Regions from separate parts of the Homo sapiens genome. Here all the other regions are reported to be linked to region 2. The links are microRNA targets in miRTarBase. Many come from high-throughput screens and were not tested one by one. Region 2 holds a microRNA gene; each other region holds the end of a gene's coding sequence.

Region 1 (3,257 bases), not on the chromosome of region 2:
AACCAAGGGTAAACAGGGCGGCAGTGCAGAGTAGGAAGGCGGAGGCGTGGGGAAAGTTTGTGGGAAGGGCAGCCCTTCTGCGGACACGGTTTAGGGAAGCAGATTCCCCTTACATTCGGCAGAGGGGTTTGAAAAGTTGTTACCTTGTAACTCCCGGTCTTTGCCCTTCTCCAAGTTCTCTCTGCTGGCTGCTCTTGCTGGGGGCGGGTGTGCTCCCTTGCAGCCCGGTACAGGGCCCCCAGGGCCCCAAGGGCATCTCAGGAGTGGACCAAGAGTCTCTGCTCCTTTCTGTCAGGTGCCAGCAACAGCCATCCTGCTCTGCTCTCCTTTCTTGCGAATGGGAGTGCCCGGCCCCGATGCTCGTCTAACTCAGGGTCTGTGCTCTTTGGGGTGTTTTGACTCCAGGCCTGTGCAGGCCTCCAAAGCTCCCGGGTGCCTCCAGGGGACTTTCTACCTGCCAGGAGTGAGCAGCTATGGGATTTCCCCCCAATTTACAAGATACACTTTCTGTGCAGCAGGCAGCCTCCAGCATGACCCCCTAGCGGGTCAGAGTGGGCAGGGCTTCAGGCCGAACTCTCCTCTCCAGCGGAGGTCTCAGCTGCTTTGCTGGGGAACAGAGCAGAGGCTGTGACACCAGCTCTGGGCACGCTGGAGGTGCTGGGTCCTCGTGAGTCCTGTGTGCAGCCGGGTTGGGCTTGGCCGTTGCGTGGGGCTGGGAGCGAGTTTACCAGGCTCTGTCTTCAGACAAATACAAGCCAAGCATTGTGCACCCAGCACCCACAAACCGTGTCACAGCCTGACCCTCGTCCCCAGAGAGGGTGTTCTGCAACTTGTGCCAAAGCCAAGAAGGACCAAGAAACTTTTTTTTAATATAAAAAGATCAATGAAAAATTTATTTATAAATTTTTCACGCTGGGCTACAGGTCAATATCGTACACTCAGGAATGTGCTGCACAAACTTTATCCAGTTAGCAGTGATCACCCCGTGACCCACACACAGCTTCGATATAAGCCTAGAAAGTCTTAACATTAATTAACATAATTAAAAAGGTATTTGCATCTAGAAAAAATATACAGAAGAACTCCTTGTGGAGTAATCTGTGCCTCCATTTCAATGTCTGCTTGTTTCACTGACATTATCAATATATTCTTCTCACACAAAGTTTTATAAAAAGCGACGGAGGGCTGCCCGAATACGACCAGCCACGCACAAAGGGCCTCCACCCACCTGTGTCCTCAAGTGCTCCCCATTTCTGCACGAAGGGTCAGCAGCACTTCCATGAAGGGGAAACCTCATTTAAATTTGAATAATTCAGCCTCCCTTTTATTTCTCAGGATCAAAACAACAAGGGGTGTGGGGCTGCATAGAAAATTGGAGCCACAGAAACCAGGAAGGGCGCCTTTCAGGACAGAAAGTGACGCAGGAGAACCTCCCCGGGCCCAGGTCTCGACGCAACCCCTCCCCCACGGCAGGATTTCGGGTTCGAATTGAGTCCTCGAAGCTCTGGGAGGCTAAAAAGGGGCAAAACGATCCTTCAATTAACTCAGCCATTAGCACAAGAGATTCACAGTCTTATAGGTATTTTATAAAAATATAAATATGGGTACACTCTGTTGCCTTCACAACGCTGGATACATCGCCCTTTAAAATTGGGTTTATAACCAAGATTCAAAAAATACACCTAAAACTTGGCTTAAAATATGTTAATATTTTATATTCTGTCATAAATGTTATGACATTTAATTGTGGCAAATCCATTTACTTTTTTTAAAAAAGTGTGCAACCGTTAACTATGATAGAACGCACTAGAAAAGGTAACGAACCTTCACCCACCCCCCCGTGTCCCCGCCACCCTCGAGCGCCAGCGAGCTTCCAGGATCCTGGGGAAACTGCAAAACAAGCCGGTTTGGGGGATGGTGGCCTCATCCAGGAGGGGCGGGGGAGAGAGGCCCTGGGGCTTCCAAAACTCACGGATTTGAGGGAGAGGGAGAAGGAGGGAGGGGGAACAGAACGGGGTGGGGAGGTAGACGCGGGGAGAAGGGAAGGGGGAGGGACAGCACGGGAACACCATCAGGCTGGGCGGTATTTTCAGTGCAACCAAGAAATGGTAGACTCAAGTTTTTAGTTTTAAGACTAGAAAAAAATGCATCACTCCCCCCCATAACCACATTGACCACGCAGTGTTTTCCAAACAAAAAAACCAGGCGCACAAACTCCACCCACAAATGTACACACACAAGATAAATAGTTTAGAACACCAGCAACAGCGAACAGCCGAGCGTCTCCTCGGCCGCGCGCCAGCGGCGCGGACCTCGGACCTCGGGGCTGCTCCTCGGCTGCAGCCGGCATCGGCGCGTCCCGGGCCTGCGGGCGGGTCCTGAAGGCGGCGGCGGAGCGCTCCGAGTCCGCCTTCGGCTCCCGCCGCCCGCCTTTCACCTTCGGGAGAAAACATTTTGCGCAGAGGATCCGGTATCTCGGGATTCCGAACTTGCTGGTTGCGAGACTCAAATTTCAAAAGGGGCTGGAGCCCGCGCCCCGCCCCCACCCGCGAGGCGGCGGGCAGGCGAGCGGGTGGGGGCCGTGGGAAGCTGCTCCGGCCCGGCCGGGCCCGGCTAGGCCGCAGGGAGGCGCTCGGCCGGCGGGGCTGCCGGACCCTGGGGCCGGGACGCACGCGCCGTATTCGCCGTGGCCACGGGCCTTCTGGCGGGGCCTGCGAGCCGGGCGCGCACCGAGGTAGTTGGCGGGAAGGTACAGCAGAGACGACGCGGGCGCAGGGCCGGGGTCCGGGGTCCCGGCGGGCATCACCGGCCGCTGGCCGCGTACTTCGCCTTGGTGATGAGATAGAGCACGATGTCCTGGTGGCCACCGAACGCGGCGATGTGCAGCGCGCTCCAGCCGTCGCGGTTGGCCAGGCGGATGTCGGCGCCGAACTTGACCAGCAGCTTCACGAGCTCCAGGTTGCCGTCGATGACCGACTGGTGCAGCGCCGTCTGGCCCTCGGGCCCGAACGAGTTCACGTTGAACTCGCAGTTGGTCATGTTCTGCAGCAGCGACTGCAGCTCCTGCGTGTTGCCCTTGCGCACAGCCTCCTGGAAGATGCGCTGCGTCTGCGGCGCGGAGCAGGTGGACAGCTCGGCCTGGCTCATGCTGCCGCCGGGCGCGGGCCGCGGGCCGGGCCGGGGCTCAGCGCGGGCGGCGGCTGCGGCGCGGGCCCCCGGCTGTCTCGGGGCGCGCCTCGGCGCATGGAGGGCGCGGC
Region 2 (3,257 bases):
GCCAGCGCTGCACCCAGGTCGCGGCTGCCGGTACTACTAGCCCCGCCATCCCTGGACCCGCGGGCCTGCAGCAACCCGTGCAGCTGCCTCAGCTTGCGGATCTGTTTGACCGTGGGGTAGCGGGTGCCGTGGCGAATGAGGGCGACCAGCTGCACCGGGGTGCAGGTCCCCTCCAGCAGCTCAGGGTCCCGCCACGGAGCCTCGGGGCCCGACAATAGCACGGGGTTGACATCCTCGTAGCGAGTCTTGGTGCCGAAATAGGGGCTGAGCGACGAGGCCACCGGGTCCCTCGGCTCTAGAAGAGAGCAGCGCGCAAGCGACGAGAGCAGCGCCGCAGCCAGGGCCGCGGCAGGCGCTACGGAGGTCCGGAGGAGGCAGCCGGGCGCGCGTAGCATCGTCGGGACGGTCAGTGGAGTGCGCCGAGCCAGCTGCAGATGCCCAGCTTCCGGCTCCGGAGGGCAGGGGGCGGGTCTGGAGGGCGCTTCCGGCCGGCGGCCCTCGGGATGCGCTTCGCTGTTCTCTAGGAGGTACCAACCTCTGGCGGTGGGTCTTGCGTCCCGGCGGAAAGCTCCGAGGAGTCCTGTAGACTTGTGGCTCGGGTGGAGCCGGCGGAAAACCCCGAGAAGCTTGAGACAGCCGTGGCTGAGGTGGAGCCGGCGTCGCTGCCCTGGAGCGTGGGCGAGTTTCCTCTTAGCCGGAGCTTCAGGGATTGACTCAAAGACTCCTCCGCTTTTTTAGTTGTTTTGGGTGTGAATACAGCCCGGACTAAACCTTAGTCGCCTAGACTAAACCTTAGCCTCCCAGGCTGCCAAAACAGCACAGCTTTTACAGATGACTCTTACATCACCATCCCTACTCTGTGATACTGTGTTTTTCAAAGTTTAGTGCCTGAACCATCAGCATGAAATCTGCCTGAGACGGTTGTTGAAAATTCACATCGCTGGGCCTTGCGGCAGGATGCCTCTTGAAGCCCAAGGTTTTTGTTTCGTTTTTTTCCATTTGAGTTTGAAAATAAACAGGATACAGTAAAGCAGAGAACTTGGAAAGGGGCTTACATTCTGCAGGAATTTAAGTCCTGAATCTTTGGTATAATCTTGACCTGGACTACCAGAGCTAACGCCGACATCAGTGAGACAGCACCCTAAAAGTTCTGTGCTTGTTGTTCCCGAAGGCTTAGCGAGTAGAGACATAGCAATCTAGAGAATTTGGGTGCATTGAGTCATGGCCCAACAGATTTACTCTATTATTAAGTATGAGCTAATCTGCTTTGCGAAGCAAACATGCTCTGTATTTACCACCACTCCAGATCCATACGTTCCTCCCATGTACTTACTTACATACTCAAATCAAAAGCTGGGTTTTTTAATAGGTTATTGCTCAGAATCTTTGACCCCAAAAATCATAAGTCTGAACAATACCTTGTTTTTTCCCACTTGAACTCCAGTTTATTTGCCAGCTGGGGAAATAATAAGTATTACAGAAGTCGTACGGTGATCCAGATTTAAGGAAATTGGGACCACGTTTTCATTAAGTTAGCTTTTGCTTCAAAGACACTATTACATTGCTCTTTATAAGCCCATCACCATCTTTACTCCTTTTCTCTTTAAGTGTCTCCTTGGTTTAGAGAGGTGTTCCTCTAAGTTTAGGCGTGCCTCTAAATGTTAACCAAGAAGAAACGGGGCCAGCCTATGAATGCTGAAAATTTGGAGACGTTCTGTGCAGGAAACCATCTTTAGGGCAACAGATGTTCTTTTCGATATGCTATTTTGTAGCATGTCAATGCCTGAATATTCATGGTCAGTGATATTTTTGTAGAACTTTGCTCAAATTAGCATTTAGTAAATATCCGCTCCTTCTTAAAATAGACATTCTAACCCGTATGCTCTATAGGCTGAGTCGCCTGATAATATTTCTAAGTGCATTCAGCGAGCATTTGTTCCAGGTTCATCTCACTGTATTTTGCCTAATACATATGCTTACTAATAACTTCTCACACCCAATCTTTTGAGTCCTAGGGGTTACCAAGTGTTCCCAAAGTCATTATTCACTTCTTCCTTATGAAGCAATCTTTAGAGACTCCACTTACAAAATGTATGGCACAGTACACATTTTTATACATGAAATTTGCCCCTAGTTTGATTTTATTTTCCTTATCTAATTCCTCATCAATTAATTTTATCCTGTTTTATACACTTAGGTATATCAGCTCCTAATTATTTTGATGTTATGCCAAGATAACAATGATAAAGTAAAAGTAAGCAATGCCTCCATGTTTTTGGCTAGGAAAAAGCCAAATATAAAGAAGACGAAGAGTGCTTAAGCTTTGGACCCAGACTCTAATTAGCTCTGCTGCTTATTAATTGAGTGACCCAAGTTCTCTGGGCCTTAGTTTTTTTTTTTTATCTGAAAATTGGTAATATTAGAACCTATATCATGGGATTATCATGACAGAGATGATGTATTTAAAATCCATATGATAGGCCGCTATAAATGATATTTTTATCATTACTAATGTTCAGTGTGATTATTCCTGTGCTAAGATGCCTAGCTTTCTAGCAATTACATGGATTACACTTACTCCCACTGAACATTAAAGTGAATGACTTTCACAGGCAACACATGCATCAAAGATCATTTCATAACTTTTCTAATAATAAAAATCCACTCATTTCACTTAAAATGGATATCTTGTTCTTAGAGCACTAAGCAGCCTTTGAAAAAATTTAAAAAGGTCACAGGCCGTGCTCCTCATTTCATGCCAGACCATGTCTGAATTATCTGGGCACTCTGTAAATTGGATGCCCTTTGACATAGGTGCCCACTTGGTCCAATCATGTAGTACAGAGAAGTTTGCATAGTGCGAAACATGGCTATTCCTTTGCAGAGATCATGGGAACATCACCTCCCCTCATAAGAAATTGTGGGTATGGGAGCAATATATTTGGCAAATCTAACACAATACAAGAGGCAGAAAGGAAAATTAATGGTTCAAGGTCCTTGCAGAGATGGGAGAGGACAGAACCAAAAACACAGGTAGAGAATTTGATTTGGGCCAGAAGGAGATGAGACCTTATCTTCTAAGAGAATGTTAGAAGGATGGGTGAACATGGGGATAAATTTGTAGATCTGGCAGGAGAGAGTTCATAGAATTCAAGTCTGATGGCCTCAGTTTCCACAGTAACATAGGAGACAAGTTTGAAAGATGGGGGAATAGGAATTAAGTCTTGAAATGTGAAAATGGTTTGGATTTGCAACTG
Region 3 (3,257 bases), not on the chromosome of region 2:
ATGTTATATATTTGATATTAATGTTATTATTCCCACCTAAATTACAAATAAAGAACAAGCCTAGTGAATTTAGGAAAAACAACTGTCATCTCCATATCATAGCATCCTTGTTTATAAATTCTAGGAAATGATACTTATCAACTTTTTATTTCACAGTTTTGCTGTGCTGATGACTAATTTTTTGTCTAGTTTCCAAAAATTACTTTGTGAAATAAAATATGCCTGACTATTGATCCAAGTGCTCAGTGATAATCTCATGACCTACGACCATTAGAAACAGTAAAATTATCACTCTTGGGAAACTATTGTAAAGCCCAGGAATTTAAACAAGAAAATTAGTCTTTCTCAGAATGCCTCTTCAAATGTCAGACTCTATTTAATTATAAACCACCTTTCCAGATGTAAAAAATTATTCAAATTTTAAAAGCCTGAAAAATTTAAAGGTTAATACAATTTAAAGACTGTTTGAATTCATTCAAATAAAAGGAAGGTCTTTCTTTAGGCCTTCTAATCTTTTCCTTTGGTATATACTGATTTCTTCTTATGGAAATATTTTATTCTTTCCTATGTTTTTTTATTTACCTTTAGGGACGGCTGGTGACTGGAAGAATTACTTCACCGTGGCCCAAAATGAGAAATTTGATGCTATTTATGAGACAGAAATGTCCAAAACTGCACTTCAATTCCGCACAGAGATTTAAAGTGTCTAAATCACACATCTGAAGAAATAAGAGATTGTCTGTAGTTGATTGAAACGAGGGCAGTTATGAATTGATTTGGGCAATCAAATGAATTTATAAAGGAGAATAATATGCTTTTAATATGTTGATTCTTTTCAATGTTATTAATCAGATCCCAGTTTTGTTCCTTTGATTCTGAGTTTCCAAATTCTCTAAGGCTAAAGTTCATTGTTAACTTTTTGTAACAAAGGAACAATGTAACCACAGGCTCTTCCTGCCTTTTTCTACACTAGTACTGATAAGAAAGAAGGGATTTATTTTACTTAATCTCCCATATATTATGATTTAGAATTAAGTTCCCCTCCCTAGTACCATGGTCCAAGAAATGCTGTTTTCATAATGAGACTATATTTCCTAACTCTGCCCCAATTTCCCTTTGCCGAAAATTTGACCCAGGACACTGTGTTCCACTGCTGTCTACCGAGTTTCAAGTTGTTCTCTGAGTCATAGCTCATCTTCCTGCAGTGCCTCTATTTGGATAACAAAGTTCATGTCCCCGATCATGTAGTTCAGATTTTGGAAATCTTTTTTCTATATCATACCTAATGTCTAAGTCTCCGAAAGGCAAACGCCTACAATAGTCTCTGTAGGATTGGTTACCTGGGAACTGGAGCTCTGTTCTGAAAAGCAGCCCTGAGGGCTGTGACCTACTTCTTATGGGGAGTCCTCTTTTTCCCAACAGACCCGTTTGAACTTCAGAGAAATCACCTACTGCTGTGTTCTGGTCACCATTTGGGAACTTCAGTTACTTAATCTTATATTTGGATAGATTTGGATACCTTAATAGCACCTTTAATATCCTAGACATGATCATAACCTCTGCAAAATATTTCCCAATCTGGTGCCCAAGGAAGACTCTCTAGGCTGAATCTCCACTCTGCCCTCTTGACCCAATGTTCCTTCTACTTATTATTACATGCTTATATCTATTTGTGTGGTCTCTGATCTATGTTTTCTTGGAACATTTATATATATATATATATATATATATATATATATATATATATATATATATGTACATTTTATTATTATACTTTAAGTTCCAGGTTACATGTGCACAATGTGCAGGTTTGTTATATATGCATACATGTGCCATGTTGGTGTGCTGCATCCATTAACTCGTCATTTACATTAGGTATACCTCCTAATGCTATCCTTCCCCCCTCCCTCCACCCCACAACAGGCCCCAGTGTGTGATGTTACCTTTCCTGTGTCCAAGTGTTCTCATCGTTCAATTCCCACCAATGACTAAGAACATGAGGTGTTTGGTTTTTTTGTTCTTGCAATAGTTTGCTGAAAAGTATGGTTTCCAGCTTTATCCATGTCCCTACAAAGGACATGAACTCATCATTTTTTATGGCTGCACAGTATTCTATGGTGTATATGTGCCACATTTTCTTAATCCAGTCTATCATTGATGGACATTTGGGTTGGTTCCAAGTCTTTGCTATTGTGAATAGTGCCGCAATAAATATACGTGTGCATGTGTCTTTATAGCAGCATGATTTATAATCCTTTGGGTATATACCCAGTAATGGGATGGCTGGGTCAAATGGTATTTCTAGTTCTAGATCTCTGAGGAATTGCCACACTGTCTTCCACAATGGTTGAACTAGTTTACACTCCCACCAAAAGTGTAAAAGTGTTCCTATTTCTCCACATCCTTTCCAGCACCTGTTGTTTCCTGACTTTTTAATGATTGCCATTCTAACTGGTGTGAGATGGTATCTCATTGTGGTTTTGATTTGCATTTCCCTGATGGCCAGTGATGATGAGCATTTTTTCATGTGTCTGTTGGCTGCATAAATGTCTTCTTTTGAGAAGTATCTGTTCATATTCTTTGCACACTTGTTGATGGGGTTGTTTTTTTTTTCTTGTAAATTTGTTTGAGTTCTTTGTAGATTCTGGATATTAGCCCTTTGTCAGATGAGTAGATTGCAAAAATTTTCTCCCATTCTGTAGGTTGCCTGTTCACGCTGATGGTAGTTTCTTTTGCTGTGCAGAAGCTCTTTAGTTTAATTAGATCCCATTTGTCAATTTTGGCTTTTGTTGCCATTGCTTTTGGTGTTTTAGACATGAAGTCCTTGCCCATGCCTATGTCCTGAATGATATTGCCTAGGTTTTCTTCTAGGGTTTTTATGGTTTTAGGTCTTACATTTAAGTCTTTAATCCATCTTGAATTAATTTTTGTATAAGGTGTAAGGAAGGGATCCAGGTTCTGCTTTCTACATATGGCTAGCCAGTTTTCCCAGCACCATTTATTAAATAGGGAATCCTTTCCCCATTGCTTGTTTTCGTCAGGTTTGTCAAAGATCAGATAATTGTAGATGTGTAGTATTATTTCTGAGGGCTCTGTTCTGTTCCATTGGTCTATATCTCTGTTTTGGTCCAGTACCATGCTGTTTTGGTTACTGTAGCCTTGTAGTATAGTTTGAAGTCAGGTAGTATGATGCTTCCAGCTTTGCTCTTTTGGCTTAGGATTGACTTGGCAATGCGGGCTCTTTTTTGGTTTCTTAT

Evidence for each region. Region 2 holds the annotated microRNA hsa-miR-4678 (AAGGUAUUGUUCAGACUUAUGA, at 1,400-1,421, opposite strand). A microRNA usually pairs through its seed, bases 2 to 8, with sites in the 3' UTR of a target mRNA and lowers its output. Matches are read on the target gene's strand: a 7mer-m8 pairs with bases 2 to 8, a 7mer-A1 pairs with bases 2 to 7 and ends in A, and an 8mer does both.
Region 1: the mRNA of NRARP is a reported target of hsa-miR-4678. Seed matches in the 3' UTR shown: 8mer at 1,577-1,584 and 7mer-m8 at 1,049-1,055.
Region 3: the mRNA of SULT1B1 is a reported target of hsa-miR-4678. Seed matches in the 3' UTR shown: 7mer-A1 at 1,279-1,285.

The regions. Positions count from the first base shown.
Region 1 is chr9:137,298,782-137,302,038 of GRCh38, forward strand. NRARP (NOTCH regulated ankyrin repeat protein) reads right to left here. Exons shown (of 1, transcript NM_001004354.3): 1 at 850-3,257. The coding sequence starts at 3,147. The coding sequence ends at 2,803. Among named protein-coding and RNA genes, the nearest start is that of NRARP, 1.9 kb to the right of the region's middle. RefSeq lists enhancers at 96-989, 2,789-3,257 and silencers at 2,348-2,397, 2,518-2,577, 2,648-2,727.
Region 2 is chr10:87,502,054-87,505,310 of GRCh38, reverse strand. It overlaps MIR4678 (microRNA 4678), which reads right to left and starts at 1,430; the gene lies at 1,357-1,430. MINPP1 (multiple inositol-polyphosphate phosphatase 1) reads right to left here and starts at 418. Exons shown (of 5, transcript NM_004897.5): 1 at 1-418. The coding sequence starts at 395. LOC112268064 (a long non-coding RNA gene) reads left to right here and starts at 477. Exons shown (of 2, transcript XR_002957094.2): 1 at 477-976. RefSeq lists enhancers at 139-198, 359-448.
Region 3 is chr4:69,724,532-69,727,788 of GRCh38, reverse strand. SULT1B1 (sulfotransferase family 1B member 1) reads left to right here. Exons shown (of 8, transcript NM_014465.4): 8 at 589-3,257. The coding sequence ends at 701. Among named protein-coding and RNA genes, the nearest start is that of SULT1B1, 34 kb to the left of the region's middle.